4 separate regions of the Homo sapiens genome follow, and regions 2, 3 and 4 are each linked to region 1. Evidence: fine-mapped expression QTL. A gene starts in region 1. Each other region holds a variant in brackets. All regions are shown on one strand. Distances are between the middles of the regions.

What was found. PIP is the estimated chance that this variant, and not a neighbour inherited with it, causes the effect.
Region 2: its variant is the best candidate, but not a certain one, in a credible set for the expression of TRIP12 in whole blood (INTERVAL, PIP 0.88).
Region 3: its variant is the best candidate, but not a certain one, in a credible set for the expression of TRIP12 in blood mononuclear cells (TOPMed, PIP 0.54).
Region 4: its variant is the best candidate, but not a certain one, in a credible set for the expression of TRIP12 in whole blood (INTERVAL, PIP 0.62).

Annotation. Positions count from the first base shown.
Region 1 is chr2:229,918,158-229,926,157 of GRCh38, reverse strand. It overlaps TRIP12 (thyroid hormone receptor interactor 12), which reads left to right and starts at 4,149. Exons shown (of 42, transcript NM_001348323.3): 1 at 4,149-4,278. It overlaps FBXO36 (F-box protein 36), which reads right to left and starts at 3,655. Exons shown (of 4, transcript NM_174899.5): 1 at 3,549-3,655. The coding sequence starts at 3,644. RefSeq lists enhancers at 3,377-3,436, 4,093-4,593, 4,594-5,094, 5,732-5,831 and a silencer at 4,267-4,656.
Region 2 is chr2:229,817,008-229,825,007 of GRCh38, reverse strand. It overlaps TRIP12 (thyroid hormone receptor interactor 12), which reads left to right. Exons shown (of 42, transcript NM_001348323.3): 9 at 6,496-6,644. Among named protein-coding and RNA genes, the nearest start is that of TRIP12, 100 kb to the left of the region's middle. RefSeq lists a silencer at 2,579-2,779. The variant T/A (reference allele first, on the strand shown) is at 3,441.
Region 3 is chr2:229,846,073-229,854,072 of GRCh38, reverse strand. All of the region lies in intron 4 of TRIP12 (thyroid hormone receptor interactor 12), which reads left to right. Among named protein-coding and RNA genes, the nearest start is that of TRIP12, 72 kb to the left of the region's middle. RefSeq lists enhancers at 2,559-3,237, 3,238-3,917. The variant TTA/A (reference allele first, on the strand shown) is at 3,779.
Region 4 is chr2:229,754,909-229,762,908 of GRCh38, reverse strand. No RefSeq gene overlaps it. Among named protein-coding and RNA genes, the nearest start is that of DNER, 44 kb to the right of the region's middle. The variant T/C (reference allele first, on the strand shown) is at 4,803.

The DNA.
Region 1 (8,000 bases):
CTCAGCCCCCCCTTTTTTTTTTTTTTTTTTTTAAGAGAAGGGGTCTTGCTATGTTGCCCAGGCTGGTCTGAAACTCCTTAGTTCAAGCAATCCTCCCACCTGAGCCTCCCAAAATTCTGGGATTACAGGTTTGAGCCACTGTGCCCAACCCTTGAGTGAATCTTTGATTTAGAAAGCAGCGCACTATTTTTTCTAAAGCTGGAGATCATCATTATAAAGATCAGCTTCGAGAAACTAAACTGACCCCAAGCTGTAATCCAAAAGTTATTTATTTGAATAAAACCCCTCTCCCAAGACCCAAAACAACATGGTATCAAGCAGTAAAAGAGAAGTGCCTGTATAAGCATACAGTATATTTCAAATGTTACTATATAAACAAAGAAAATGTTTATGTATAACATTTATATTCTGGACTATGTCAGTGGTGGTATGACACTAATGAGAGAAATATCTGCCCTCAAATCCATGTCAAATGTGCAGTTATTTGGATTTAAGGCCAACGAAAAAGATGCAGTGAAAAAGAGACTAAAAAACAGAATCAGCATGAAAGAAGGATTCATCTAAATCTGGGGCATAATTTGGATAATATACAACATTAAAAAAATAAAGACAGGAGAAAGGGGAGGAAATGTACAAGAAATAATTTTAGAAAGTCATTCCAGAAAAAAAATCTATCTTATAAAACATATTTTAATGCTAGTCTTTTAGTACTTATTTATGTCAGGCCACCTCTTACTGGATGTTTGGTTTCCTGTGCTGAGACTCAGAAAAATTGTCTTGTGGTTAGAAAATAGCATATTCTCAAGGCAGTTGACTGAAAAGTATATTTTTTTGGCATGCCATTTTTTACAACAAATTTTACTTTAAAAAGAGGGTGAATTAATTAGCTTGGAGATTAACTCTCACTGGTAGAAGTGTAGTGGATTTATTCAGCATGCTTAAAAAAGAAAATGGATCAGAATTTAGGATTTTATATATATGTAACTGACAGAACCTGAGATAAAGGAGAGTTTTTCACTTGCAAAAAATAAAAAATAAATAAATAAATAATAAAAATAAAGAAAGAAAAAGAAAAATTAAGAACACTGAAGGGATGGTGGGAAAGATTTCTTAAAAAAGAGTAGTTAGGGCCGGGCGCGGTGGCTCACGCCTGTAATGCCAGGAGATAGAGACCATCCTGGCTAACACGGTGAAACCCCATCTCAACTAAAAATACAAAAAATTAGCCGGGCGTGGTGGCGGGCGCCTGTAATCCCAGCTACTGGGGAGGCTGAGGTAGGAGAATGGTGTGAACCCAGGAGGCGGAGCTTGCAGTGAGCTGAGATTGAGCCACTGCACTCCAGCCTGGGCGACAGTGCGAGACGCTGCCTCAAAGAAAAAAAAAAAAAGAGTAGTTAGAGGAAGGCATGCGCCTAAGTTAGACTTGAGAGCAAAGTCTGAAGAACACCAACAACAGAATTATTCTTTAGGAAGCCGAATGCCAGGGAGCACTCCTAAGGATAATTTACTAAAATAAAAAGGTAACAAGATACTCAGCCTGGTGAGGCTTACAAATGAGAGAAATGAAGCATACTTGTAAAATACCAGACCTTCAGGGGAAAGAAAATGCAAAAAAAGACAAATTTTTAAAGGCTGTAAAAATTAAAACATTCTAACTTACTTGAGGTAGATAAAAATAGAAAATCATGTAAGATTAGAACAGATTATATTTTTGACCACTCATGTTAGGAGGTGAAGAAATGTTAGGATCATAAATCTTAAAGCCAGCCAGGCTCGGTGGCTCAAGTCTATAATCCTAGCAATTTGGGAGGCCGAGGCAGCTGGATCACCTGAGGTCAGGAGTTGGAGACCACTCTGGCCAAAATGGCGAAACCCCGTCTCTATTAAAAATACAAAAATTAGCTGGGTGTGGTGGCGCACGCCTGTAATCCCAGTTACTCGGGGGGCTGAGGCAGGAGAATCGCTTGAACCCAGGAGATGCGGAGGTTGCAGTGAGCTGAGATCGCGCCACTGCACTCCAGCCTGGGCAACAGAGGGAGACTCCCTCTCGATAAATAAACAAACAAATCTTAAAACAAATGGAAAAATCAATAATCCGTTTAAAAAATGTACAAGGCCGGGCGCGGTGGCTCACGCCTGTAATCCCAGCACTTTGGGAGGCCGAGGCAGGCGGATCACGAGATCAAGAGATCGAGACCATCCTGGCCAACATGGTGAAACGAGGTCGCAGTGAGCCGAGATCGCGCCACTGCACTCCAGCCTGGCGACAGAGCGAGACTCCGTCTCAAAAAAAAAAAAAAAAAAAAAAAACAACACCAAAAAAAAAGTACAGAAAAGGATACCTTTCAGTATTTCATACATCACTAAATGTGCAAAACCCCCTAAGAACAGTTTAATTAAAAATTTGAGTCTGACCCTGGGCCCACTGCCTATGAATTAGCCCTGCTCCGCAAGGAGCAGTACTGTTTTAAAAAAAATTTTTTTTGGACAGGCTGATTTTACATTTGTAATATTTCTAAATCTTAAATTAAAAAATATATATTAACATTTATATTTTAAAAGATGCTTTCAAAAATATAAAAAAATTAACTCATTACCTATTTTGTTTAAGGGCTCCTGGAAAAACTGAGGGAATGATCAATATGCACACCAAAACAAATATATACAAACTTCTAAATTTCATTTTATAGGAATAGTATCTATTGAAAGGGCAGGGTGCATGAATAACTCAGTGACAGGCGTAAACTCAGCCAGGATTAGAAACGTCTTCCCAATGGAGGCCCCGCTCAAGTTGAGAATTTCATGGACACAGTAAATCATCCAAAAGCCCACCTTCAATAACCAAAGTAGGCATAAAAATAGGCCGATGGTTACTTTGGAGATAATATAATCCTCGGTCTTATTGTTGTGGAGCAGATGTCATTATGGGTGGGGCTGAAGCGCAGAGCAGCTGAAACATTTTTATACCACCACCCGCACACTTTCAATGGGATAGAAGGGACTCCAAAAGGTAAGAGCTCCCAATCGTCAGTTGCTACTAGAAATAACTAAGTTTTGATGTGGCCGTGGCACGCGTAAAGGCCACAAAGAGATTTATAAAATTCTCCATGATTAATTCCTATCCTGGAAAAGAGGCAATCTCCTTTTCCCCTCCCTAGCCGGCTCCTCCTTGGGACACTTGGCTGAGTCGTTCTTTCCCTCCTTCTCACGCTGAGGTGAGGCCGCACGCAAGCCGGAGACGCCCGTTTTCCTCTTCGCGCGGAGGAAACTCTACGGGTAAGAAGCCGGGGTGGCGGGAAAGGAGCACGCGGCACCGCGGGGAGGCAGAGAAGGCTTGCCAGGGACTAGCCGGGCTCGGGGAGAGCAGGGACACGCGGGCCGTCGGACCGAGGAGGCCGAGGTGACGAGGAAAATCTCCCGGCGCGGAGCCGGGACTGGGCGCTTCCGGCGGGCTACGGTTGCTCTTGGCCTAGCACAGCCTGCGTCCCGGGCCCCAACCGGGCCAGGTAGGGAGTTAGGAGAGAGGGTAAACCGCGGCTCGCACTTGCCTGAGACCGGGTGACCAGTAACTGGTAATAGTCTTTGCTAGGCGGCGGGCCTTGTCCTACAGTTTCAAAGAGAGTCTCCGGCAGCCACGACGCCATCTTGGGACGCCACCGCCGTCGCTAAGACAACCAGGAAGGGGCGGGGCTTGGTTGGGGTCAAGGGGCCAAAACCCTAGTTTAAATTGAACCACGCTTATGAGCTGGCAGAAGGATTTCTAACTTGGGGCGATCGTCCCCTCTTCCAAGGGTCTTAGGGAACCCTGATCCGTGAAATTTCCAGCTCCAGGTCCCGGGTGACCCGAGGGGGAATTAGTTCCTGCTACCACGGAGGGGAGGGGGTGACCCCGGCGGAGGGATACCAAGTAGATCTCCACAGTCCCCTTCCTGGTCCCTCGAAGGGATCGGGCGGAGATCGGAGGCTGCTGAGAGAGTCGAGCCGGGAGGCGTGGGAGGGAGGGGCGATGTGATGGGCCGCCAGTAGGCAGCGGTGCCGGTCCCGCGGACGAGCCCGTAACCGGAGCCCGAGGACAAAGTAGTTCCCCGAGGGTGTCAGAGCAGGCGGGGAGGGAGGCGGCACGGGCGGAGGCGCACGCCGGGCGCGGTGCTGCGGCTCAGCTGATAATTGAAGGAACCCGGAGCCGCCGCCGCCGCGCCGCTGGGGGGGGTGGGGGGAGCTAGTGGAAGTTACTGCCGCGCCACCGAGTCCGGACCGGAGACTTTGGGGCCTAACTAGGTAATTGGGGCGCAGCTCTGGGCGGCGGGGGCAAGCCTTGGGGGAGGGGGCCAGCTGAGGGGTTGGGGGGGCGGGGGGAGGAGCTGGAACAGAAAGTCCCAGGAAGCCCGGTTGTGTCATCGCCGCGATTCGGCCCCCGCTTGGCCTGCTCCCGGCGCCGGCGGCGGCGGGGCCGCGGAAGGACCGGGCCGGGGGTGGACGGGAGAGACGCTCGAGGGCGGCCGCGGCCGGAGGGACCGGGGCCTGGCGGGAGGTAGGGGTCGCTGGGTCCCTCCTCCGGCTTCCCGCAATGAGGAGGGCCCTTCACAGAACCGGGGTAAGGCTTGCGGGTGTTGGGGAGCTCGGCGGGGACCAAGGGGGGCCGGAAGTGGGCTTTGGAGCTTGGAGGGTGTCTGGGAAGAGAGAAAGTGGGGGGCCGGAAGTGCAGGTGGGGGGTGTGAAGACGGCAAGGGTTCCCCGGAAATGGGACGAGGGGCCCGGAAATCGGGAAAGGGGAGGCTCCGGGGCCGTGGACGGCCCGGAAATGGAAACTAGGAAGCAGCTCCAGTGACAACAGTTGTGGGAAGCGAGGGTCAGAGAAGGGAGAGGCCAGAGAGACTTTAGACCGCAGTAAGGGGTTTCCTGCCCAGGGGGACGGCGAGGGACGGTTGAGGGAGGGCGAGCCCGGAGACGGGGTCTGCGCGGGGCAGTTTTTTAAGCCGTGGGAAGTTGAGGCTGAGGGAGGATGATGACGAGGGGGGCATGCAGGGAGGCCTAAAGAAGCCGAGAAACTTGACTGAGAGGAATAGAGTATCCTTTTAAATAGATCAGAATGGAAATTGGTGGTAGGTGGGTTTAACTAGGACTTGGGGGAGGGAGGTGGGCCAATTGTCACCCCAATCGTATTAGCATTCAGAGCGAGTCAGGCGATTAATTTATTTATATGTGGATTACATAAAACCTATTATTTACAACGTTTGTCCATCAGTTCAGCCCCTCTCCTTCCTTCTCCATAGTGAGTGGGTTTCTAGTACAGGAACAAGTTAGAGGGGAGTTCGAATAACGAAGGTAGTAAAACCTCAAATCCTGTCTTCCTCGGCGTCTCTCCCTTCCTCAGAATAAGAAATCCTTCATTTCCTAGACGGAAAAATGCGGAAAAACATAAAAACACATGTAAATCGGGGGGAAATCACACTTTGAACTCCTGGTGGGGGACAGGAGGGAATTGGTTACCTTACGTGGTGAGGAGATAACGGAAGGGGCAGCTTCCAAACCCTTAAGACAAATGTTGTGTTTTTTTGATAATGCTGTTTTACTTTGGGGGAGGTTTAGCCTAAGCATCGAGTCTGGTGGTGGGCATAGTTTAATTGCTTCTTTAGTTAATTGGGGGAGGGAATGTGTTTGTGTGTAAAGGTTGGGCCGGTGCGGGGGGAGGCGGGTACGGTTAATAGCGCAGTGAATCCGTTCTAAGTGGACGTCTAACTGCTCTCCTGCTGTCTCCTTTCCTAGTCGCGGTCCTCGATCTTGCCTGGGCTGCCAGATCACCCGATCTCCGGGCTTTACTCCGTTTTGTAGGCCCTTTAGTGATGTGTTTAACTTTATGTTCCTCTCGAGAGTCTCATTAGGTATTTTTGGCATTTCATTTTTTAAAGACCTAGCAAGTTGAGTCTCAGAGTCTCCTCTTTAAAAACAAAACAAAAAATACGGGGTAGAAAGTTGAAAGAGCTATTGAGTGGGGTAAAACGACGCTCAGAACAAAGGTCCTAGTTGTGTTAGAAAAAAAGGCAAGAGGCCTGTATATGAGGCCTGTGTGTGTCGCATTTACACCCCGGGGGGGTTGAGGAATGGAATTAGCAGAGGTTTAGAGACAATAAATTGTAGAGGATTTTATTGAGGCTGATTTTCATATTTACCACATGCAAAGTGATCAATATTAAGTGTAAGTTTTAAAGTATACAGAATTTCTAATTCTTTCTTTTGACACTTCCTGCTGTGTGTTCAGCCCCAGAAATGTTGAACTGCTGTGACTATCTTTGTGAGATTGAGGGAGTTTTATTTTAAGCTTAAGAGTACATAATATGATTGGGGTTTGTGGGCTTTGTACATGTCTGCCTTTCTATGAATGTGCCAATATCCATAAGAATTGGAAAACTGTAATTAAGATTATCATTGTTTCCATTCAATCCCCAGTTTTTCTGGAGTGTGAGCAGTTTTTAAGTCTGTTCAGCTGACATTTATACTACTTAGTTTGAGTCTATGAACAGGCTTTATTTTTCTTTTTTTTTTTCATTTACTTTCAAAAAGTTTGAGAACAATTTTGGCAGTTAGGTTCCAGAAGGTGCTAAACTAAAGTAGTTACATTTAAAAAACGAATGGGATGCTAGGTAGATCACGGTAAAATCAGTACTTTCACCTGGCAAAGTAAATTTGTAGTAATGTATGATTCCATGTATGATTCCTTTCCCATTGTAACTTTTTTTTTTTTTAAAGCAGAATCTTGCTCTGTCGCCTAGGCTGGAGTGCAGTGGTGCAGTGTAGGCTTAATGCAACCTCTGCCTCCTGGTTCAAGCGATTCTCCTGCCTCAGCCTCCTGAGTAGCTGAGATTACAGGCACGCGCCACCACGCCCGGCTAATTTTTGCATTTTTAGTAGAGACAGAGTTTCACCATGTTGGCCAGGCTGGTCTCGAACTCCCGACCTCTCAGGTGATCCGCCTGCCTTGGTCACCCAAAGTGCTGGGATTGCAGGGGAGAGCCACCACGCCGGCCCCAGTGTAACTTGTAAGATTATTGTATTTATGTTATCTAGACAAGGTTTTAATATCCTGCTTTATTTTAAGGTTTTCATCTTAGCAAGGAAAACATCACTGGCTTGGAAATTCACACACTACCAGTTAGTAGCTTTGTGACCTTGAGCTAGTCACTTAACCTATCTGGTCTTCATTTATTTTATCTGTAAAATGGGAGTGGGTAATCTCTATTTTACCTCACTGGGTGGTTGTGAGACCCAACAGATGTAATGACTGAAAAAAAACAACATGCTAAATAAATTAATTTTAGAAAATTACATGAGCTGTTTTGAGGTCATTTTTAAAAGATACAGCTTCTCATTAGTCGTGGTGGTCCATGGGGCAGGGGAGAATTAATGTAAACTAGGTTGAAGGTACAGAGTTATAGAACTTCATAATTTGAAATTGCTGCTTAATTGGTAGTAGAATTTGGGTCTCATTTTTGTCTTTTTAAAGTTACCTTCTTTTTTTGGTATCAGCATGCCAGATACTTGTTTGCCATACATTCTACTGAAAAAACTTGTTAATATGTTTAAAGAAACTTCAAATTCATTTACGTTTTTTATTGACAAAGTACCTGTTCTGGTTTGTGACTCTAATGAAATTGACTTAATGTAAGAGATTACAATTAGGGAATAATGCTTCTGAATCTTGGTCACTGTTTTCTTTACAGAACCTAGGGAACTTTCCCCCCTTTTAAGTGGATGGGTAGGGATCTTTTTGAGCAAATGTGATACCAGTTGCTCCTTTATTTTTTTGTTTGCTATTTGATGGACTCAAGTCAAAACAGCAACCTACTTGGTTTTTTAATCTTCACTGAAATCATTCCTTGCAATTGCCTGTTTGACATGGACTTTTCCCTCATTTAAATCAAGCAAGCACCCACTATGTACAGAAAAACATAGAAGATAAAGGATGTGAAGAACAACTTACAACTCATGTCTTCAGATCACTT
Region 2 (8,000 bases), 100 kb after region 1:
ACCAAGTTGGATTGTTTCATTTACTTCATTTTGCTTCTGATTTTTAGGGACTGCTTTTTAAAATTTATGTTTTGCTTTTATAATTATGTAATATTTACATAGTTCTAAAAGTCAAATCTACAAACAACATATATTTAGAAAAATCTTATCTTCTTTTGCTTTCCATTTTCCCTGCTTCTTCCTCTCACATAAATAATCTTTTAAATTTTATGCCTTGTCCTTCTGTTATTTACTTTAAAAAATCCATAAATATCTATATTGTCCATGGGAATGCCTTTCTCAGTTAAGAGTAGCAAACTTTATACACTTTACTTTGCTTTTGACACTATATTTTGGTGTTCACTCTTCGTGTTCACTCTTCATAGCTGCCACATGCATGTTGCATGTTCAACTGATAGGCCTTTGTAAAGCTGCCACGTTACTCCATTGTGTGGGTATACATAGTTTATTTATATAGTCCCCTGTTGGACATTTGAGTTTTCAGTTTTTTTTTCTATTGGCAAGGCTTCAGTGAAATGTAGCTTTCGTATTTTTTCAAGCATTATCTTTTGGATAGATTTCTAGAAGCAGGTTTGCTGCTTAAATGGGTGTAAATGCATACGATGTTTTTGTAGGTGTTGCAAACTCCCCCCCATTTGGAGTTGCACCATTTTGCGTTTCCACCAGTCATGTGTGAATGACAGTAGTATGGTATCAAGCTTTTGAATTTTTACCAAAATTCATTGTTTCTCTAATATTAACTTTTTTTAGTTATATGTATCTTCGTATATTTCTTTTAGTGGTACCCTAGAGAGTATAATGCAAATTCATTGGTTTATTATAGCATACCTTAAATTAATACTTTATCATATCTCAAACAGTACAAGAACCTTACAACAGTTTATTAACACTTTTTACCTCCTGCCCTCCTTTATGTTTGTTGTATTTAATTTGTTTTACCTATATATACGTGTTATAAACTTGATAGGACGTTACTTAGAATATCTGTTTTCTTTTATGTTTGCCAACATGCTTAACCTTTGCAGTGCTCTTAGTTTCTTCTTGCAGTTTCTTTTTTCTTTAAAGGATTGTTTCCTTCTAGCCTAAAGAACTTTTTTTTTTAACATAGTGTCAGACTATTAATAATGATTTCTTTCTGTGTTTGAGAAATCCTTGATGTGTCTTTATTAATTTATGAATGAATTAATGAGATGCCATCTCGCCATGTTGCGCAGGCTAGTCGCAGACCCTTGGCCTCAAGTGATCCTCCCGCTTCAGTTTCTAAGTTGCTGGGGTTACAGGCATGTGCTTTATTTGCACTTATTTTTTGTTGTTGTTGTTGTTTTTTTTTTTTGAGACAGAGTCTCCTCTGTTGCCCAGGTTGGAGTGCAGTGGCGCGATCTCAGCTCACTGCAAGCTCCGCCTCCCGGGTTCACGCCATTCTTCTGCGTCAACCTCCCGAGTAGCTGGGACTACAGGTGCCTGCCACCACACCTGGCTAATTTTTTTTTTATTTTTGGTAGAGATAGGGTTTCACCGTGTTAGCCAGGATGGTCTCGATTTCCTGACCTCCTGATCCACCCCACCTCGGCCTCTCAAAATGCTGGGACTACAGGCGTGAGCCACCATGCCTGGCCAAGCCTAGGAAGCAGAGGTTGCAGTTAGCCGAGATCGGGCTACTGCAATCCAGCATGGGACCCTGTCTCAAAAAAAATGTAAAAACCACTTATTTTTTAATAGCTTGACTATATAGGGTTTAAGTGATGTTTCCTTGACCCTTAATGTGCTTGCCCTTCACTGAACTTTTGAATATGTGAGTTGATATCTTCAGTTTTAGAAAATTCTTGGTCATTATTTCTTCTAGTATTGTTTCTCTTATCTCATCATCAGATTTTCTCCTTCCTTTCCTTTTGGAGAGTATCAGGATCATACACATTTAAACTTTACACTGCATCCAGCATGTCTCTCTGGCTCTGTTTTATTTTTGGTTTTGTTTTCAGAATTTTTTCTCTTTGCCTAGTTGGAAAACTTCCTATTGATCAGTTTTTAAATTCACTAGTTCTTTTTTCTGCTGTCTTCAATCTTTTGTTAAACCCGTCAATGAGTTCTTAATTTCAGATACGTTTTTCAGTTCTGAATAGTTTTTTGATTCTCTTTATAGATGCCAATCATCTGTTGAAAATGTGTATATTCTTAATCAATTTTGTCCATCTTTGCTTGTATTTTTAATACTTTATAAAACATTTGTCTTTTCATTCTAGAAGTATTGGTCTGCTTTTATTGTCTTTTTTTCCCCCACTTAATTCTCAGTCCCATATTCCTGCCTCTTTATAAGTCTAGTAATTGTTTGGTTATGTGACAGACGTTTTGTATAAAAGAACTAAAGTGGCCCAAAATGATATTTTCTGCTAGTGCTAGCTTTCTTTTTTCTCTACCAAAAATAAAGGGTCCAGAGCTGATCACTCTAACTTTAATCAGGACTTGAGCTTGTTTTAACCAGAGTTGTAATTTTGGTATGACTAATTTCACCTCTGGTAATTTTGGTATGACTCATTTCACCTCTTGCTAGTCACTGTTTTCTTTGTTGTGGCCCTCCTAGAATTTTGATTGACAACTTTGCAAATCTATGTCTCCTCAGATTTGAATAGTTGAGCAGTCTCAAAATGTGGCAAGTATCTTGGGAGTTCAGATTTGAATAGTTGAGCAGTCTCAAAATGTGGCAGATTATCTTGGGAGTTCAGGTACCAGCTGTGTGTCTTTGACGCCTACTCTCTCTGTTGAGATGTTGGCTTCTGAGCACCATGAGACTGCAGAAGATTTTCTTCTATCTTATCAAAACTTCTTACTCTCCCCTCTATCAGTTTTTTGTTTGTTTGTTTGTTTGTTTTGAGACGGAGTCTCGCTCTTGTCGCTCATGCTGGAGTGCAGCGACGTGAACTTGGTTCACTGCAACCTCTGCCTCCCGAGTTCAAGTGATTCTTGTGCTTCAGCCTCCCACGTATCTGGGACTGCAGGTGCACACCACCGCGCCCGGCTAATTTTTGTATTTTTAGTAGAAACAGCGTTTCACCATGCTGGCCAGGCTGTTCTCAAACTCCTGACCTCAGGTGATCCGCCCATCTTGGCCTCCCAAAGTGCTGGGATTACAGGTGTGAGCCAGGGTATCTGGCCCCTCTATCAGTTTTCACAGTTCCAGAACTCGGTACCTGTCTGTGGGCCAGTTGATTTCAACACATTAGCTTCTTGTGACTCCCTAAAGCACTATAGGCTTCTGTTTCCATTCCTATCAGAAATTAGCAAACTACTGCCCAAGGGCCAAATCCACGCTCCTGCTTGTTTTTATACTACCTGTGTACTCTTAAGAATGGGTTTTATATTTTACGTGGCTGAAAACATTTTAAAAGAGAATATTTTGTGATGTGAAAATTAAATGCAGATCAAATTTCAGTGTCCATAATGTT[T/A]TATTGGTATACAGTCATGTTCATTTGTTTGTATTAGTCTTACTTTCTATGGATACTTTCCAGCTACAGTGCTAGAGTTGAGTAGTTGCAGTAGAGACCATATGCCTGTAAAGCCCAAAATAATTGCTATCTCTCCCTTGAAAGAGAACGTTTTCCTGCCAAACCCTGATCTGTGATAACAGTTCTCAAAGTGTGATCTGTGGACTCTTGGTTTCTGAGAGAGACCCTTAAATGAGTTCTATAAGGTCAAAACTAATAATAGTTACCAAGATTTTTCCTTTTCTACTTCATTGATGTTTGAACTGATGGTGCAAAAGCTGTAATGGGTAAAACTGGTGGGATCTTAAGCATCAAAGCAGTGGCACTAAACGGTACTAGCAATCATTGTGTTTTTCACTGCCACATACTCCTAATAAATATAATTCAGTTTTTATCTAAGATGCCCTTACTGAACCAAAGTTAATTTAATTAGGTCTTTACTCCCAAGACATGTCTTTTTAATACTCTTTGGAACAAAATAAGGCCAATCTTTTCTATATACAGTTGACTCTTGAACAATATGAGTTTGAACTGTGCTGGGTCCACTTATTCATGGATTTTAAAAATAAATACAGTTAGCTTTCTGTATCCATGAGTTCTACATTAGCAACCAAATTCAGATTGGAAATACAGTGTTTGGGCCAGGCGCGGTGGCTCATGTCTGTAATCCCAGCACTTTGGGAGGCCGAGGTGGGCAGATCACCTGAGGTCAGGAGTTCACTACCAGCCTGGCCAACATGGTGAAACCCATCTCTACTAAAAATACAGAAAAATTAGCCACGTGTGTTGGCTTGTGCCTGTAATCCCAGCTACTTGGGAGGCTGAGGCAGGAGAATCGCTGGAACCCAGAAGGCAGAGGTTGCAGTGAGCTGAGACCGCACCACTTGTTTTGGAAAATAAGGTCTTTTAAAATCAAAATTATTTATATTAATATATAATGAGTTAACTGGCAAATATTTAAAATTTTTGTATTTCAATTAACATATTTTAAAATTATCAATAAATATAACCCACATAAACAAAAGTGCTTTGTGGTACCTCAGTAGTTTTTAAGAGTATAAAATGATTCTAAATTCAAAATCCACTGCTCTAGGAGTTGGTTTCTCCTCATAAATCAGAGGATAAATCAGGTTTTGGTTATGGTTTTGGCTTTTTGTTGTCATCTTCAGTTTAGTGTAAGTTATTTTTAGGAACATCCCAGATGTTTTATTGGTATTGATGATAATTTTGATTATGCTGTATAAGATCCATGTCCTTAAGAGTTGCCAACCCCAATGGTTATAAGACCTCCATCTAGTTGCATACATGTTGGTTCTTTCTTTTAGGGGGTTGTGCTCTTAGGCCATACTTGATATGAACTGTTTAATCCTTTTAAAGTCATGTTAGAATCAGTGGAGGATTCATTTGTTTTCACTATTTTTCTATCATTTTGTTTTTCCTTCCACATTATGTCAACACAGAAGTGATAAACCTGCTGTCACTAAAATTGGTATTATTTAGTTTAAAATTGTTAAATTGTATTTCCCTGAACTTTTCTTCTGGTGTATTTTTGGATGGATTTTTAATTATGGTAAAGGTAGGTAGGCAGCGATAGCTATGGAATGCAGTAGCCACAATCTTAAACCATAAAACAACTTCCATTGATTGCTATGTGCCCCTGTGAGAGGTGTACGCCCCCAGGAATATCACTGAAGCTCAGTTGAAATTATTAGGTTCAGTTTTTTGAGAATTTCACATTCATTGACAGTTTCCAGACATATATCCCATTTCTACACATTTCAGTACTCAATGATATAGGACTGGAAAAGTCCAATTTGCGAAGAATAACTTGAAAAGGTGTAAGAAGTGAAGGAGCTTTAAAAGTAACATCATATAAGATTGGTTAAGTGTTAATTTAATTAATTGTGGTTTCAAGTAGGAAAGTGTCCATGAAAAATGAAACACATTCATAGACTTTATTTTTTAAAATTAATTAATTAATTTTGAGATGAAGTCTCAGTCTGTGGCCCAGTCTGGAGTGCAGTGACATGATCTCGGCTCACTGCAACCTCTGCCTCTCAGGTTCAAGCAGTTCTCCTGCCTCAGCCTCCTGCGTATCTGGGACTACAGGTGCACACCACTGCGCTCGGCTAATTTTTGTATTTTTAGTGGAGATGCGGTTTCGCCATGTTGGCCAGGTTGGTCTCAAACTCCTGACCTCAAGTGATCCACTTGCCTTGGCCTCCCAAAGTGCTTGGATTACAGGCATGAGCCACTGCACCCAGCCTCTCTAGACTTTATTTTGGAGTGTATTGTTTAGCTTAATGACAACGTACTTCTCTGTGGTTGTTGAGTATTCACATTTTTCAATTGTTGGAGTAGTGGAATTAAGTCTTAAAAGTAGGAACATTCTAATAGCCATCATCTGTGCAGGAAATGAAAGAGGATGCAAGGGTTTATAATTGTGTGTGTGTGTGTGTGTGTGTGTGTGTGTGTGTGTGTGTGTGTGGTTTTTATTTTTACAGAATATTCTTTCCATTCTCTTTTTTGTTAGATACGTTGTTGTGTTTTTTATTTCCTTGCCCTTTCATTGTTAATTGGATTCTATTTATTCTGGAACAGATATTTAGAGGTGTATAACATTTCCTTTGAAGTATGGGCATCATTGTTTAACAGGTTTTTATTATTGTAGCAAGCCTTTGCTCACAATTGATATTTCCTTAAAACAGATAATGTTAAAGCTATCAGTTCATACTGGTCTTAGGGATATTATTTTTTGTTTTTGCTGTAAAACCAGTCAAGTTTTCAATTAAGAAGACAGAAGTATATAACTGTGAAAGCATGTTAAGGCAGAGTAGATCCAACTAATTTAATTCTTCCTTCAATGTATTAGCAGTGAGCCTTAACCCTGGTATAGACCTAGTCTTTCATTAGGATGCAAAGAAGATAAGCAACCAATTACATTTCGAGTCACACCTTATACCTAGTAATAATTTTCTTAAATGTTTAAAGATAATAATTATTTTTTTCTCTAAAGGTTCTAAGGCCCAGCAGCTACTACAAGGATTGCAAGCCAGTGATGAAAGTCAACAGCTTCAGGCAGTTATTGAGATGTGTCAGTTACTGGTCATGGGAAATGAGGAGACACTGGGAGGGTTTCCTGTCAAGAGTGTTGTTCCAGCTTTGGTAAGCATAATGTTTTTCCCTCGTTTTTACCTCATTTGTCCTCTGAAATCTGCCGATTTTGTACTGAATGTATGATTATTGTCATTATTAATTTTTAAAACATGATAGAGTTAAGAGAGGAGTATATGACTTGGTGCTTGTATTTCATGCTTACAGATACTGTGAGCAATTGCTAATGAGTTAGCAAATTTTCTAAATCATTTTTTTGATGAATAGTCACCCACTTCTTGATACTTAAATGACTGGTTTTAAGTTGTTCACCTCATCAGTAACCTTGACTCCTGCCATGTAAAATGCACATGCTTTTTCTTTTAGCCTGGTGATCCACGGAGCAATAGGCCAGGGAAGCTCACTCTGGGTTGTGTCGGGGGGCCAGAAAGGTTTCATATTTAGTACGTGTCTACATGGGAATACTACTCAAGCCATATGGTATATATGTGGATCCTTTCAGTTTAAAAGCTTTTATGTTGGCCAGTGGCAATGTCTGACGCCTGTAATCCCAATACTTTGGGAGACCGAGGTAGGTGGATCTTCTGAGGTCAGGAGTTGGAGACCAGGCTGGCCAACATGGTGAAACCCCATCTCTACTAAAAATACAAAAATTAGCCGGGCATGGTTGCAGGTGCCTGTAGATCTCAGCTACTCAGGAGGCTGAGGCAGGACAGTCACTTGAACCTGGAAGGCAGAGAATCGCTCTAATCTCTTGCAGTGAGCCAAGATCGCGCCACTGCACTCCAGCCTGGGCAACAGGAGCAAAACTCTTGTCTCAGAAAAAGAAATAAAAGACTTTAAAAAATCTTTTTAATGCCTTTTCAACACAGTTGTGAGTTGATATTTTGATATGATAGATTTATTAACAGCTTGATTCCTTAAACTTTTAAATATGAAAACAATAGGAAGAAAAATTGCCATTATCAAATGTAGGCACCTTAGCACAATACAGCATTTAAATAGTGGATTGATAATTTTCTTTGTCCAAAATTAAAGAAATTAGGTATAATTTAAGATTAAAATTTGAGTCTAAATCAAACACTACCAAAAGACAAACATAAACATTTACATTTGTGGTATGTTTTATTTTGGAAATTACAGTTAAATGCCATGTAAATCTTTTTTGTATATCCAGTAAAGCTGACAGAAAATGAAGTTATGATTTATACATCATATTGTCCCATTTGATGAGATTATCAAATTATGGAGATAGCTTGAGTTTTGGTGAGAGAGCTGAGTAAAGAAAAGCCTGTGAAATACAAGGTGACAATCCTTATTCTGCTTGTTCTTATTTGGATGGCTCAGCTCTGGCAGAGTTTGATAAAGGATAGAACAATTTCTTCACCTGCCACCCAGATGCAGATA
Region 3 (8,000 bases), 72 kb after region 1:
CCCTTAAATTTACACAAGAAAGTCAAAACTAGGAATATATATACAAATAAAATTGCATAATTTTATATGTAAACATGTAACCTATATAAATGGATACATCAACATAAATGAAAACAAAAATGTCAATATTAATACATGTACATTGCTTTAAAAAATATTATCTCCTCATAGTTTGGCGAGGTTGGGCAAATCATTCAGCTGTAGTTATGATACCAACCCTATTACTAATCTTATTTGCAAAATAATAAGATTCCTCCTTGTGAAGCATAAATGAAAGATTTTCAAAGTTGTTTTCACATATGAAGTGCCATAGAATGCAGCAACATATTGTAATGTACCATGTAATGTTGAATTGAGAGTTATGGTCATGTATGTATGTATGTATGTATGTATTTTATTTATTTATTTATTTTTGGAGTCAGAGTCTCATTCTTGTCGCCCAGTCTGGAGTGCAGTGGTGTGATCTCTGCTCACTGCATCCTCCCCCTCCTGGATTCAAGTGATTCTCGTGTCTCAGCCTCCCAAGTAGCTGGGATTCACAGGTGCCACCACACCTGGCTAATTTTTGTATTTTTAGTAGAGATGCGGTTTTGCCATGTTGGCCAGGCTGGTCTCGAACTCCTGACCTCAGGTGATCTGCCCGCCTCGCCCAGCCAGGTCATGTATTTAAAGGGCTTTTGTATGCATCAGGGTTTTTTGTTTTAACGTTAATTCAGAGGCCAGAATTAGATTCAGTGGGTGGATGAAAGTTGAGAGATGGGCTTCTGATTAATACAAATCTTAGTAGAATAAAAATCTAAAAATTATATTAAAAATAGAGTAGGCCATTGTGAGAAATTTCACATTGGGTAGGTTTTTTATTTTATTTTGGATATCCTTTGTTTTCTTCCAGTTTTTAAGAATTGAACCTATTTGAATGTGATGTGTTTCCTTAGGTAAAGACTTATTCTAAGACATAATTGGTCAGTAGGAGAGCTTTCATAGTAAAGGAAATGTTTTAAAAATTGTAGGAACAACAGTATTTTTAAGATGCTTTATGAAAAACCATTCTCCATGTTCAAGTATTATTCAAGGAGATTCTAGATAAGCAGGAATATATTGAAAGCTGTGGGAAGACTTGCAGTAACTTCTTAACCCAATAATTTGCAAATTAATTTGACCAGCTATTACTTGGGAACCAGTAGTGGTTCATGGAATACACTCAGGAAATGATATAATACATTTAGTGAGGAAGCTTAAACAGGAAGACCTTGTTATTGTGCTGCTTAGTCAATTGTTGATAGACCAATGAACAAGTTCCCGGCGAGGCACTAGGGCTGGCAGAAGATCTAGTGAAACCGCTACTTTAGTGATAGACTTCCTGAAGCATTGCTGCTTGCCAGCTGTATCTCATCAAAACAGCTCTGAGACAAAGGTCATTCTGTGTTACTTGGTAAAAGTCTCCTGAGTACCCCAGAAAGAAAATTGTTATGTAACAATTTTTAATGTACATTAGGAAGTTATAGCTGTCTCTTGTTTAGCCTAAGTAAGTAGACATTTTTGCAAATTTTATACAGCATAAATATAAAACCAGTAGGGTAATATAATGATATAGATGGCTTCAAAAATCTTTTTATATTTTAATATACTTTAAATAATTTTATAATAGTTTGGCTTCAAAATATATTTTGCTAATCTACCTTCTTATAAAAGCTAATTTAAAAAAAAATTTGCAATAATTTCAAAGTGAGTAGATGATGATGGTATAGAATTATAAGAAACAATTGGTGATCAAAATCTGAGTAATTATGGAACCTGTTTATAGAAAAACTTAAGTTATATTTCCAGGCAGATGTTCTATTGAAGATCTACTTTACTCTCTATTATTTAAAGTGGACATCATGTGCACGTTATTAGTAACATAGCAGTAGTTAACAGCTTACTTTTGTCTTGAGTTTCATATTCTCCTGGTGACTTTGCATGTAGCCTGTGGTTTTTATCAGACCTAGACAAGAACCAGGCAAAAGCCAAATTCTAGAAAAGAGATTCTGATTAGATTAGGAAGACTTAGTGCTTTGGGCCCCTAGCACGGAGGGAGGAAATAAGAATGAGTTAAGCAGGAGAGATGAATTTAAGTTAGATACATGGTTTTGTGTCCGGAATTGGTGGATTCTTGGTCTCACTGACTTCAAGAATGAAGCCGCGGACCCTCATGGTGAGTGTTACAGCTCTTAAGGTGGCGCGTCTGGAGTTTGTTCCTTCTGATGTTCGGATGTGTTTGGAGTTTCTTCCTTCTGGTGGGTTCATGGTCTCGCTGGCTCAGGAGTGAAGCTGCGCGGTGAGTGTTACAGTTCTTAAGGCAGCACGTCTGGAGTTGTTCCTTCCTCCCGGTGGGCTCATGGTCTTGCTGGCTTCAGGAGTGAAGCTGCAGATCTTCGCGGTGAGTGTTATAGCTCATAAAAGCAGTGTGGACCCAAAGAGTGAGCAGTAGCAAGATTTATTGCAAAGAGTGAAAGAACAAAGCTTCCAGTGTGGAAGGGGACCCGAGCGGGTTGCCACTGCTGGCTCGGGCAGCCTGCTTTTATTCTCTTATCTGGCCCCACCCACATCCTGCTGATTGGTAGAGCCGAGTGGTCTGTTTTGAGAGGGTGCTAATTGGTGCATTTACAATCCCTGAGCTAGACACTAAAGGTTCTCCATGTCCCCACCAGATTAGCTAGATACAGAGTGTTGACACAAAGGTTCTCCAAGGCTCCACCAGAGTAGCTAGAGAGTGTCGATTGGTGCATTCACAAACCCTGAGCTAGACACAGGGTGCGGATTGGTGTGTTTACAAACCTTGAGCTAGATACAGAGTGCCGATTTACAATCCCTGAGCTAGACATAAAGGTTCTCCACGTCCCCACCAGACTCAGGAGCCTAGCTGGCTTCACCCAGTGGATCCTGCACCGGGGCTGCACGTGGAGCTGCCTGCCGGTCCCGCGCCATGTGCTCGGACTCCTCAGCCCTTGGGTGATCGATGGTACTGGGTGCCCTGGAGCAGGGGGCGGCGCTCGTCGGGGAGGCTTGGGCTGCACAGGAGCCCACGGAGGTGGGGGAAGGCTCAGCCATGGTGGGCTGCTCTCCCGAGGCCTGCGCTGCGGGAAGGCAGCTAAGGCCCGGCGAGAAATCGAGTGCAGCGCCGGTGGTCTGGCACTGCTGGGGGACCCAGTACACTCTCCGCAGCCGCTGGCCCGGGTGCTGAGCCCCTCATTGCCTGGGGCCGGCAGGGCCGGCTGCTCCTCCGAGTGTGGGGCCCGCCAAGCCCACACCCACCCGGAACTCCAGCTGGCCCGCAAGCGCCGGGTGCAGCCCCCGTTCCCACTCGCGCCTCTCCCTCCACACCTCCCTGCAAGCTGAGGGAGTGGGCTCTGGCCTTGGCCAGCCCAGAAAGGGGCTCCCACATTGCAGCGGTGGGCTGAAGGGCTCCTCAGGTGCCGCCAAAGTTGGAGGCCAGGCAGAGGAGGCGCCGAGAGCGAGCGAGGGCTGTGAGGACTGCCACACGCTGTCACCTTTCAGTTTCACCAACTTGCATCTTGCAGGATCATCTCTACTTGCGTGAAAAAGGTAGATAATCTGTGAGCTCTGTGAAGAGTTGGGCAGGGAGCTTAAAAGGAAATGGGTTGAGTGTCAGTTTTCTATATTACAAGGCAGCTATTAAAGTAATTTAGCAACTTAAAAGTTTAGAAGTTCCAATATGTGACCGCTTTGAAAAATTACTAACAAATAATCCTAGTGTTTTTGAGGCTTTAAAAAAACT[TTA/A]AACAGAAGTGGCCAAATTTAAAAAAGAGATCATTTAATTGTAAATACAGCATTGACTTCTTTGTTAACAAGGCTTTGCTTTGTATTACATTGTTTGGAAATTATAAATGGCCATGTTATATATTGTTTTGTATGCAAGGTCAAAATAAGAATTAAATTAGCCAAATTATGTTTTACTCAATTTACATTAGTAATTGCCCTTTATATTCTTACGTGTATTCTGGAATGGTTTTGACACTTCTGATTCTGATATATGTTTGTTAAAAGTAATCCAGAAAGTACCAAAATATACAAAGAAGAAAAATACAAAATCACTTTTAATTTCATTCACCAAGGGCTACCTCTTTTTTTTTTTTTGGTGTGTATTATGCCAAAAATTTTCACTTTATATTTATCAACACTTATGTGCAGTGTTAAGTGAAAGAGTTATATAAGACCTTTTTTTTCTTCTTCTTCAAGAAGATAATCATAGCTTACTGCAGCCTTGATCTCAAAAGATTCAAACAGTGTTCCCACCTCAGCATCCCGGGTAGCTGGGACCACAGGCACATGCCACCATACCCAGCTAATTTTTTTAGAAAGATTTTTTTTTTGTAGAGATGAGGTCTCACTATGTTGCCTAGGTTCGTCTCAAACTCCTGGACTCAAGCGATCCTCCTATCTAGGCCTCCGAAAGTGCTTGGATTATAGGCATGAGCCACTATGCCTGGCCAGATCTATTATTTTTTTTTAAAGCAGTCTTTCTGCCACTTTGCCCTTTTCTGTGGCTGATTATTTTGAAGTTTCAGTGTCTAGATTATGTGCTTTTATATGTCCCTTTGTTGATTCTTCTCCCCCACCCCCAAGTGTTTGATCCCTGTTGTGTTCCCCTTAGGGAAAATGAAGATTTTGCATTCTAACCTTACCCCACCCCATTCACCTACCAAACACATACTGTTACATACTTCCTGTCTTCCCAGTGATGATCAGCACGCAGGGTTTATTGTATCGTGAACATCTAAATGTTATTTACACTGAGCCACGTAAAGGAACATTTCCTTTCTCACACATTTTTGCTTTTCCTGAATTTTAAATTCCTTTTTGTTGTTGTTTTCCTTACTTTCCCATGAACTTACTCAAACTCCACATTCCTTACTAATTGTCACAATCTTTTCTCAAGCTGTCTGCATGCATTTGTTTCATCTTGAAGAAATGAGGCCTCTGGATGGTTGTTCATTATGCCTGGTTATACGGCTTCAGCCTTGGGATTTTCTTCAGTCTTCTTAGTTTCCCTTTTCTAGATTTCATGTCATCTTGGTTTCTTGTTTTGGTGGAATATTTCTTCTTGACTCTAAGGAAAAGTATGAGATTTTAATAATTTACAATTTATTTTTTCAAAATTTAGATGTCTGAAAATGTTATACCACCCTGATATTTATTTGCCAGATTGGTGAATATAGAGTTCTGGGTTGGGAATTACTTTCCTTCAGAATTTTCAAGAATTATATAGTGTATTCTGTCTTTCAATACTGGCACCATTCCTAGTTCTGATTTATTCCTTGATAGGGTGACCAACTGGTTTTGCTTTCTCTGGATCTGGGGCATTCTGAAGACTCAGGACTTACAGCTCTAAAACCAGCATAGTCCTAGGCAAACTGGGACTGTTGGTCACCGTGTACTTGTTTGTTTTCTCTTTCTTGATTTTCTATTGAGTGCTTGTCCTCTTAAATGGTCTTGATCTTACTGTTTGACATTGCTTTCCTTTTTCGTTCTGTTTCTGGTAGATTTCTACATCTTCCAACTTTTCTCTTGAAATGCTTTTTTTCCCCCATGTTTGCCATGTTTTATTTCCAAGAGGTGATTTTGTTTTCATTTTCTTGTTTATAGAATCATGCGTTTGGTTTATGGTTGCATTTCTTTTTTGATGACATTAATGGTGAGTTTTCTTTGCCTGTGTAATCTCAAGTATTTGTGTGTGTGGGGGGGGCGGGGGGGGCCTGCATTTTGGATTGGTTTTGTCTTTCATGTTAGGAACTTTCCTCATATTCTGGTAATTCTGGTAATTCCTGGTTGTCTCCTCATACTCAAGTGTAATTCAAGACCAAAAGTCTAATTTATAAGCTCTGAGTACATAAGGGAGGTTTGACCGAGATTCATTGTTTAGTGATCTGGTTGGGTCATTTTGTTGTAAACTTCCTCTTATCATTATTTTTAGATCTTTTTTTCTTTAGCTGGTAAAATTCCACAGAGAAGATTGTTTCAAACTTCTGCCTCAAGGTGAAGCCCTAAGTGCCTGAGTTCTGGGGGCCAAGTGGGAGAAGAGGCCACAGATGGAGGCAGGATAATGTATATTGTCAGACAGTATGTCTGTACTCGATTCCCTTCTCTCCCTCTTATTTTTGGTGTAGTGAACCTATTTGTACTGTGTACTTTAGTCAGGAATTTCTATATTCTATACTTCCTAAAGAATAAAGGTCTTGTTTTTTGCTGGAACCAGGAGAGGAATGGTTACCCAGCTGTACAAGTGTGGGAGAGGATCTGAGGATCTGATGCCTTGTAAACAGCCTATCAGCCAATCTTCAGTTTTAATCCCAACACTGCCCTAGAGGTATCTGGCATCATCAGATCCTGAGCCTTTTTGGGTTTCTCTGGTGTCAGTTTGATTGGTAGTTAATCTCAGCTTTCTACTTTCAGCTTTCTGGACTTCCCAGTGCATTTAGCCCCGGCATTTCTGGTTTTCATCTCCTAAAATTGTATTGTAACAATAGTGTCTTCCATTCTTCTCATCCTTGTAGATTTATGTCTCAGATTGTTTTAATGCTGTATTAGTGGCATTTCATGTGGAGACAGAAGTGAGTGCATGTGTGTTAAGTCTTCTGTCTTTACCCAGAAGGGAGACACTTCGCTAGGCATATGCAAAAGTATGATCTCGCTGTACATGACAGTGGGCATTACTTTTTGAGTGCCTGTTATGTGGCCAGGCTCTGAAATAGACATTTGATGTCCGTTAAATTTCATCTTCAGAATGACAGAGCAAGGTAATAGTTGTGGAGAAACAAAAGTGCATTATTTGTCTAAACACTTTGTAATAGAGTGGTTTCCTTTCAAATAACTATAAATTACATCATTCGTAATGGCTAGATATGGATGTACCCTAATTAAGTATAGCTTTGTAATTTACACCACTCTTTCCTTGTTAAGTCACTGGTTATATTCTTTTTAGATATTGACATATATTTTGAAACTGCACTTAGAAATACATGAATTCCCACCAGCTGTGTAAAAGTGCCAACATGTTCAAATCCTTATTAAATAATAACTGTTTTCTTGCAACTTTAATTACCATACTGTTTTATTTAACTATTCCCTGTTATTGGGCATCTAGCTCCTTTCTAGTTTCTCCTCATTATAAATACTGCTTAGATGAATACCTTTGGACATTTCCAATATTTGTAATTCATATTGACAAATCAGTGCATGAAATGCTGTGCATTGACTAGGAAATAAAAATTTGCTTTAAAAATTGCATTTGGGATTTAGCTCATTATCTGCAAAATCTGTCTTATTATTACTGAGTTATTTTAAAATAAAAGTCTGTGATTCCTTTTTATAACCTCATAGATTACTTTTCATTTTTTTAAATTTATTTTTACCAAAGTAACCATTAATATAGTTACACGGGCATACCTTGGAGATGTTAATGCACTCAGTTCCCAGCCACCACAAGAAAATTAAAATCACAGTAAAGTGAGTTCCATGAATTTTTTTGTTTCCCAGTGCACATAAAAGTTGTACTTACACTATACTGTAATCTAGTAAGCATGCAATAAATAGCATTGTGTCTAAAAAAACAATGTACATGGCTTAGTTAAAAATATTTTATTGCTAAAAATTGCTAATGATCATCTGAGCCTTAGCAAGTCATAATCTTTTTGCTGGTGGATGATCTTGCCTCAGTGTTGATAGATGTTGACTGATCAGGGTGGTGGTTGCTGAAGGTTGGTGTGATTGTGGAAGTTTCAAAACGATAAAGTTTGCAGCGTTGATTGACTTTTGCTTCCACGAAAGATTTCAATATAGCATGCGATGCTGTTTGATAGCATTTTATCTATAGTAGAACTTCTTTGAGAATTGGAGTCAATTTTTTTCCAACCCTGCTGCTGCTGCTTTATCACTAAGTTTATGTATATTTTAAATCCTTTCTTGTCATTTCAGTGATGTCTACAGCATCTTTCCATGAA
Region 4 (8,000 bases), 160 kb after region 1:
TGTCATTCCTTCCTCTTTTTTTTTGAGCCAGGTTAGTAACCTCAACATTAGCTGGGGCCGGACGCGGTGGCTCACGCCTGTAATCCCAGCACTTTGGGAGGCCGAGGCGGGTGGATCACGAGGTCAGGAGATCGAGACCATCCTGGCTGGCACAGTGAAACCCCGTCTCTACTAAAAATACAAAAAATTAGCCGGGCGAGGTGGCGGTCGCCTGTAGTCCCAGCTACGCGGGAGGCTGAGGCAGGAGAATGGCGTGAACCCCGGGGGCCGGAGCCTGCAGTGAGTCGAGATCGCGCCACTGCACTCCAGCCTGGGCGACAGCGAGACTCCGTCTCAAAAAAAAAAAAAAAAAGATTAGCTGGTCTCCTATGTTGCTCCTCCTCTCACTTGATGTGAGAAGGGCAGGAAGAAGGGTCGTGCTGATGCCTGGAATAACGCTGTCCTTCCTATGCAAGAAATTGCAAGGAAGCAGGTCCCAGAACTGCCCCATAGCCAGCTCAAATGTCCCATTGTGGCTTTGAGGCCCAGGCACACATGCTGGATTCTTGCACTCTCATTGGGAATTGAGGTTTCAGGAATCGATTTTGGTATCTTCTATGTGGCTATGATACATCAAAATGTTAATTAGGGACACTATTAACAATTTATTATCAAGAAGATTGTACTAAGGGATATTAGGGCAGAAAACACAAGTCCAGATTGCAAGGGGTCTAAACACTGGTTAATGTTAACGTGGGCAATTGTAGAGTTATACGGGGCAGCTGCTGTTAGTTGAAATGATCATCTGTAAAGTTAACAGTAATGTAAAGAAAACCCGATGGGCTCAGCTTGCAGTTTCTTGATGGAATTTGGACATTTGTTAAAACTCATTCATCCTAGTCAGTCCTATTCCCAAAGTGTGTTCCAAAACTTAGAATAGAACATGCAGCCCTTGGCATCCAGGCAGAGTCCCTGGCATCATGATAACTCACACAGACCTGTGTAAAGGGCTTTGTGAAAATAAACTTGGTGGAGCAGAAAGAGCCCCAGACAGAGTCAGAAGGCCTGATGTAGTCCTGGCTCCAGTCTTCCCAGCTAGGGGAAGCTAACCCCACTGAACCTTACTCTCTGTGTTTTTGTGAAGCCAGTTCAGTGATCTCCAGCTTTATGTTTTAATGGTAACATTCTTCAAATCTTGTATGATTCTTTAAAACGTCTCCCAGGATTTCTTAACAGGTATAGGCATTTTGCTTGATGCAGTTCTTCCTGGTAGAGGGTTACAGCAAAGCCCTTTGCTTCTAAATGTCAATAGCACCTTCCAGTCATTATGACAACTCAAAATGCCCCTTACTACTTCCAGATAGTTCAAATATCAACGCGTTATCTACTGAGTGAAAACAGTAATTGTGTGTTGCAGCTTTTGGAAAGCATTTAGATTTTATATTCAGCCAATAATTATAGTTAGTGACAAATCAAACCTTTGCAGAATTTATAAGTAGGCACAAGAGAGGGATAAGAAGAGGAATGTAAAAGTGACGATTTTTAGTCAGAAAAAGCCACAATCCTGTCCTCCCCTACTCCTCACACACACAACATCCCTCTCACCCAGCTTCCTTCGATTAGGAGGACGTTGTCTTACCACTCTGGCCTCCTACATAAATGAGAACCGCTTGTTTAAAATGTAACTAATTTTAAAAGGACTTTAAATTCAGAAAATGTCATTGTAGTTGCCCCTGTGATCAATAAAAACAGGCTTAATAACTAAATTCATTGAGAAAAAGCTTAATAGTTCTAATGAGAATGTTAAGTATTCAAGCCAGGTTTTTCAACTTTCTAGAACTAAATAAAAAAAAAGTTGGTCTTTAATTATTATAGGCTAATAGACTAGGCAAAGTAAGTTTTCTTTCCTCCAAGGACAATTTAGTGTTGTAATAGATTTATTTGCTTCCATTGTTCTGATAGCATTCTGGATGGATGGTGAGAATATGAAATCCATTTCCTCCCAAAGCATTCAATGGTGTTTTGGTGTTTAGAAAGAAAAAGCTGCAAGTTTTGTGGTCTTCCTCTCCAACATACCAACTTCCCTCCCCACTTAACACCCATGGGAGTGGGCAGGAGTGGTGTCTCAGTCCAATTTCTGGCATTATGACAGAATACCAAAGACGGGATAATTTATAAAGAAAGATTTATTTGGATCACAGTTCTGGAGGCTGGGAAGTCCAGGAGCATGGCACTGGCATCTGGTGAAGTCATCCCATGGTGGAAGGCATCACATGGCAAGCAAGCATGCAAGACAGAGGAAAAAGGGGCCAAACACGCAAAAGCTAACCCACTCTCAAGGTATTGGCATTAATTTTTTCATGAGGGTGAAGCCCTTATGACCCAATCACCTCCAAAAGGCCTCACCTCTTCACATCACCACAATGGCAACCAAGTTTCCAACACATGAACTTTTGGAGGACTCATTCAAACTATGACAGATGGGATGACGAATCTCTTTAGTCACGGATCGACTTGACATTCATCGTGAAATGGATGAATTAAGAAATAGATGCTTTTTGTTAGTTATTGTTTTCCCTTTACATGGAGGTTTTTTGTTTGGATCTCATGGTCAACTAAGTGTACTACAAATATTTTAGTGTACTGTGTTCAGTCTTCCCATTTTATCATCTGCAGGAGATGCCATGGTATCAGGTTGTTGTTTTTCTTAAATCTCGTGCCTGGCATAATGCCTGGCCTAGACTCACATAGTCACTGAAGGAATGAATGAGCATTTCTGTACTGTTGCGTTCTTTCCTCTTTGTCAGTCAGGTTGTTTGCATAATCTGTGCTCTTTTACTTCAGGACTTTAGAATCCAGGGAGAAAGGAAAATGAAATTGAAACAACTATGTATACAGTTAAGTATTATGTGGATTTGGAAAAATCCAGAGGAAAGCTGGGGGTAATCAACAGAATTACACTGAGTATGAAAACCTACCTCCTAACATCACCATCACCACCAGAAGCAGTATAAACTGGCCTGTAATCATAGGTGACACTTTGTTCTTCGCCAAAATGTCCTGTTGACATGGTGCTATTTAGTTTTTGGTGAACAGTTCACTTGGACAATGTAGATAAAACTAAAAGAAATCAGATGTCATTCCAGAAGTAAACTCAAATTCATGACAAAGTTAGGATGTGCTAGGAGTTAGTAGGTATATTAGCACAGGTCAAAGTTAAAAATGTAATAAAAATGATGAATGAAAAAGAAAACCTCAATGTTTCTATCACCACAAAAAAAAGTTACAGGAGAAGGAGAAGTCCATTTTAAAAACAAACTAATGTTCCATCAGTTGGAAGATTATGAGTAGAGAATGTGATACTTTTTTTTTTTTTTTTCAAAGTCCATTTAGAACAGACAGCCCAGGAAAGATGAGCAACTTTTTACATTGCCAATACTTTCACAGGCTCCGGCTCTAATTTAAATTATGTTTTTAGGTTTTTTATGATGATTTAAAAAAAAAAAACTCAGTAGTACTGCTTATTTCAATTCTGAATTTTGTACACATTGGTAAAAACTGACATTTCAATACTAAACTCTTTCCTGCTACTTATAAAGTTTTTTTATGAAGGTTTCTATTTTACTGCTATGTTGTGTTTCAGAAAGATGGCTGGGCTCTGAATTCAGACAACTGAGGCTCTTATTTGAATTTGACCTTGGGTAAGTCAAGTAACTTTCACTGGGTATTTTTTATCTGTAAAATTATGGAAGCAGACCGATTAAGTCCCCTTTGGGTTCTAAAATTCTAAGTTTCTAACCTCTATTGCAGTTCTTAGATTATCTTTTTCAGATCAACTCGATTGAAGAGTGTGCATTAGATCCTATTCTAATCAAGTTGAACAAAATAAAGTAATTGTTAACTACACAGTTTTAATGCCAAAATAAAAGTGCAGGTTTCTTTTGAAATATATATTGAGTTGCATACTTGTGTCACTATTAATACCAGATATTAAAACAACTCAGGAAATAAATGTTATTTTTGTTTTATTTCTTGATCTTTTAAATCCATCTTAATGTTAAGTACTAGTGGGTTTTCTTGGTTTCCACCAACTTGTTCAATGACCATTTGTCAAGTTAGGATGTGAGACTGGGTAGGACTGGGATGTTACTAACCACTGCCATTGGTCAGATTCTTTATACCCCAAAACGTAGAGGTGTACAGATTCTTGGAGCTGGAAGGACGTCCATTAAAAAGGCAATACAGCCATCTATTTAAAAAATAATACAGTTGATATATTTCACCTAAAATTACATAGTTTGTTATGCTAACAATGGAGTGAGATATATAACCTTAAGTAATCCTAATGCTGGAAAGATATTTAAGGTACTGCTTATCAGACCCCTTCATACCTAGTTGAGGAAATAATAGCTCAGAGAGGTTGAGACCTTCCCAAGATCACCCAGGTTTCCACCTGGATGTAGAATGTAGGTTTTCTGATTTCCAGCCAGTGGCCTTTCCATAAAACCAGAGATTTTCGTCCATGATTCCTGTGAGTTGAGAGTCCCAATGTTATCTTTTCTAAAGTCTAAAAGATTCATCTTTGAAGAGACGGGTCTAGAGAATTGCCTCTTCCCATACTTCCCAGAAGTGATCACCCACCATATTTGTTCAGGAAGCAAGAAACCAGGTGGGAACCAGTTTTTCACTTTGTCAGACTAAAGAAGCAGTTTAATAAGTGCAGCTTATTTTGGGGTTCCTTTTGGTGAGTGAGTTTGTTTCTTGCTCACCCTCACTGATGATGGGATGAACGGAACAGGAGCTGTAGAGATGGCCTTTGCCTT[T/C]GATTGTCACACTTTCTGCTTTGAACACAATCACTTGATGTTTTGTAGACAAAATTTGCCATAAAACTTTTGTTCTGTAATTTTCTACTGTCCTGCTCCATGGGCTTCCAATCAACTTTCTCCCTGTTAGTCAACAACTACAACAACAAAACCACTTTCTGGCTGGGCCCGGTGCCTCATGCCTGTAGTCCCAGCACTTTGGGAGGCCGAAGTGGGCAGATCAGTTGAGGTCAGGAGTTTGAGAGCGGCCCGGCCAACACGGCAAAACCCTGTCTCTACTAAAAATACAAAAATTAGCCGGTGTCATGGCATGCACCTGTAATCCCAGCTACTTGAGAGGCTGAGACAGGAGAATGGCTTGAACCTGGGAGGCGGAGGTTGCAATGAGCTGAGATTATGCCACCGCACTCCAGCCGGGCTGACAGAGCAAGACTCTGTTTCAAAATAAATAAATAAATAAATAAATAAATAAATAAATAAATATAAAAAATAATAAATAAAAAACACTTTCTCTTCTCTCTCCTAGGCGGGGGTTGCAGGGCCAGCTCAGTGATCTCCAGTGACCATTCATTGGGACGGTGGGTGTAATCGTTAGGCACTGCTGTGTAACAACAAACAGTCTGAAACCACAAACATTATTATCTTACTCATTCCAATGGTCAGGAATCGGGAAATGCCTTAACCAGATTGTCAGGTTCAGAGCCTCTCATAAGTCCACAGGGGCTGTAGTTTTTGGAAGCTGAAGGATCCTCTTCGAAGCTATTCATATGGCTATTGGCAGGAGGCCTCAGTTCCTCGGTGACTGTTGGCTGGAGACTTCGGCTCCTCACTGGATACCTCTTTCTCCATGGGCTGCTTGAGTATCCTGACACAATGGCTTGCTTCCCCCAGAGTAAGCGATCTGAGAGAGAGAGAGAGAGAGGGAGAAAGAGAGAGAGAGAACACACAAGACAGAAGCTACAGTCTTATAACCTAATGACGGAAGTGGCATTTCATCACTTGTGTTATATTCTTTTGGTCCCAGAGACTAATCCTGGCACAGGGTAGGAGGGGACTACATGAGGATGCTGCAAATACCTGGAGGTGCAGGACCCCTGGCGGCTGTGTGGGAGCCACAAAGACACGAGCAGAGACGAAGGTGTCTGCTTTAGACTCCAACATGCCTCAAACCCAGCAGAGAGAAGTTAGAAATGCAACTGAGGGCCCAGCCTGATTTTTCTCCCTCTTGGCTTCTCTCTCTCTCTCTCTATATATATATATAGTATATATATATACTCTATACTTTCTCTCTCTATATATATATATTATATTTTAGACAGGGTCTTGCTCTGTCACCCAGGCTGGAGTGCAGTGGCATGATCTTGGCCCACTGCAACCTCTGCCTCCTGGGTTCAAGTGATCCTCCCGCTTCAGCATCCCGAGTAGCTTGGATTACAGGTGTGCACCACCATGCCTGGCTAATTTTTGTATTTTTTAATAGAGATGTTTTCACCATGTTAGCCAGGCTGGTCTTGAACATCTGGCCTCAAGTGATTCTCCTGCCTCGGCCTCCCAAAGTGCTGGGATTATAGGCGTGAGCCACTGCACCCATTGGTCAATATTTTTTGAGCCCCAGTTCCACTTGAAAGAAAATGATCTTTAAGTGATTTTTATTTCTCGTCTTACTACAAAATGTTTTGCTGTGGGAAATACTGAAAAAATAACAAGAAGAAAAAATTAAATTCCACAAATGTAGCACCTAGAAATGTAGCGCCTTAATTGAAAATGTAAAAAATGAAATAGAGTATAGAATAGAAAAATATCAGCGTATATTGGAGGTACTATGGGTAAGTATTACTTTGTGGAACTTTTATTTCAGTTACAAATATACGTATATATTTGCTTCCATAGAGTTGAGCTAAAAATACAAATAAAATATATGTGTATGTATAATTAATTAGTTACAGTGTCAACTGTACTTCTGACTATATGTTGTGGTAAAACCCACTTTTGGCCAGGCATGGGGGCTCACACCTGTAATCCTAGCACTTTGGGAGGCTGTGGCAGGCGGATCACCTGAGGTCAGAAGTTTGAGACCAGCCTGGCCAACACAGTGAAATCCCGTCTCTACTAAAAGTACAAAAATTAGCCTGGCATGGTGGTGGGTGCCTGTAATCCCAGCTACTCACGAGGCTGAGGCAGGAGAATCACTTAAACCCAGGAGGCAGAGGTTGCAGTGAGCCAAGATGGTGCCACTGCACTTCAGCCTGGGTGACAGAGCAAGGCTCCATCTCAAAAATAAAATAATCCCCCCAACTTTTTTTTTTTTTTTTTTTTTTGATACAGAGTCTTGCTCTGTTGCCAGGCTGGAGTACAGTGGTGCGATCTCACTGCAACCTCCGCCTCCCAGGTTAAAGCGATTCTCCTGCCTCAGCCTCCTAAGTAGCTGGGCCTACAGGTGTGCACCACCACGCCCAGCTAATTTTTGTATTTTTAGTAGAGCTGGGGTTCACCATGTTGGCCAGGATGGTCTTGATCTCTTGATCTCATGATCCACTCCCCTCGCCCTCCCACAGTGCTGGGATTACAGGCGTGAGCCACCGCCCCAGGGCCTAAAACCCCCTTTTGATCATACTTAAGTTTATGCTAATGAAGTAATTCAGGATGAGGTCCCTAGATAGCTTCAGGATGGGGCTGGTCACTAGGATGACACAGTGGTTAGTTAGAGTGCTGGAACTTTCAACCTTGCCCGCCAACCTCCAGGAAAGGGAGGAAGAGCTAGCGCTTGGACTCTATGAAGACTTTTGAACAAGATTTGATGGATTTTCAGGTTGGTGAACACATCCAAACGCTGGCAGGGTGGTGGTCCATCGAGGGCACTGCAGGTTCCCCCACTCCATCTCCAGCCTTGCTCAATGCTTCTCTTCCATCTGCCAGTTCCTGAGTTATAAACATAAGTAGAGTGCTTCCCTGAGTTCTATGAACAATTCTAGCAAATTATCAAACCCATCATCCAAGGTCATGGCTGTTTAGTGATATGTAATCCATCTCTCTGAGTGTAAGAAATAATATGGCAAATGTAATTATACCATCTTGCATTTTAATAATGGGAAGACATTATGACTAAGTATTTTTGTTCCAGTGCAGTTGACAGTATTTCTCAATGAAGAGGAGCATTAACTAGCAAAGAAAGAGTGTAATTCATTTATTAGGGCAACT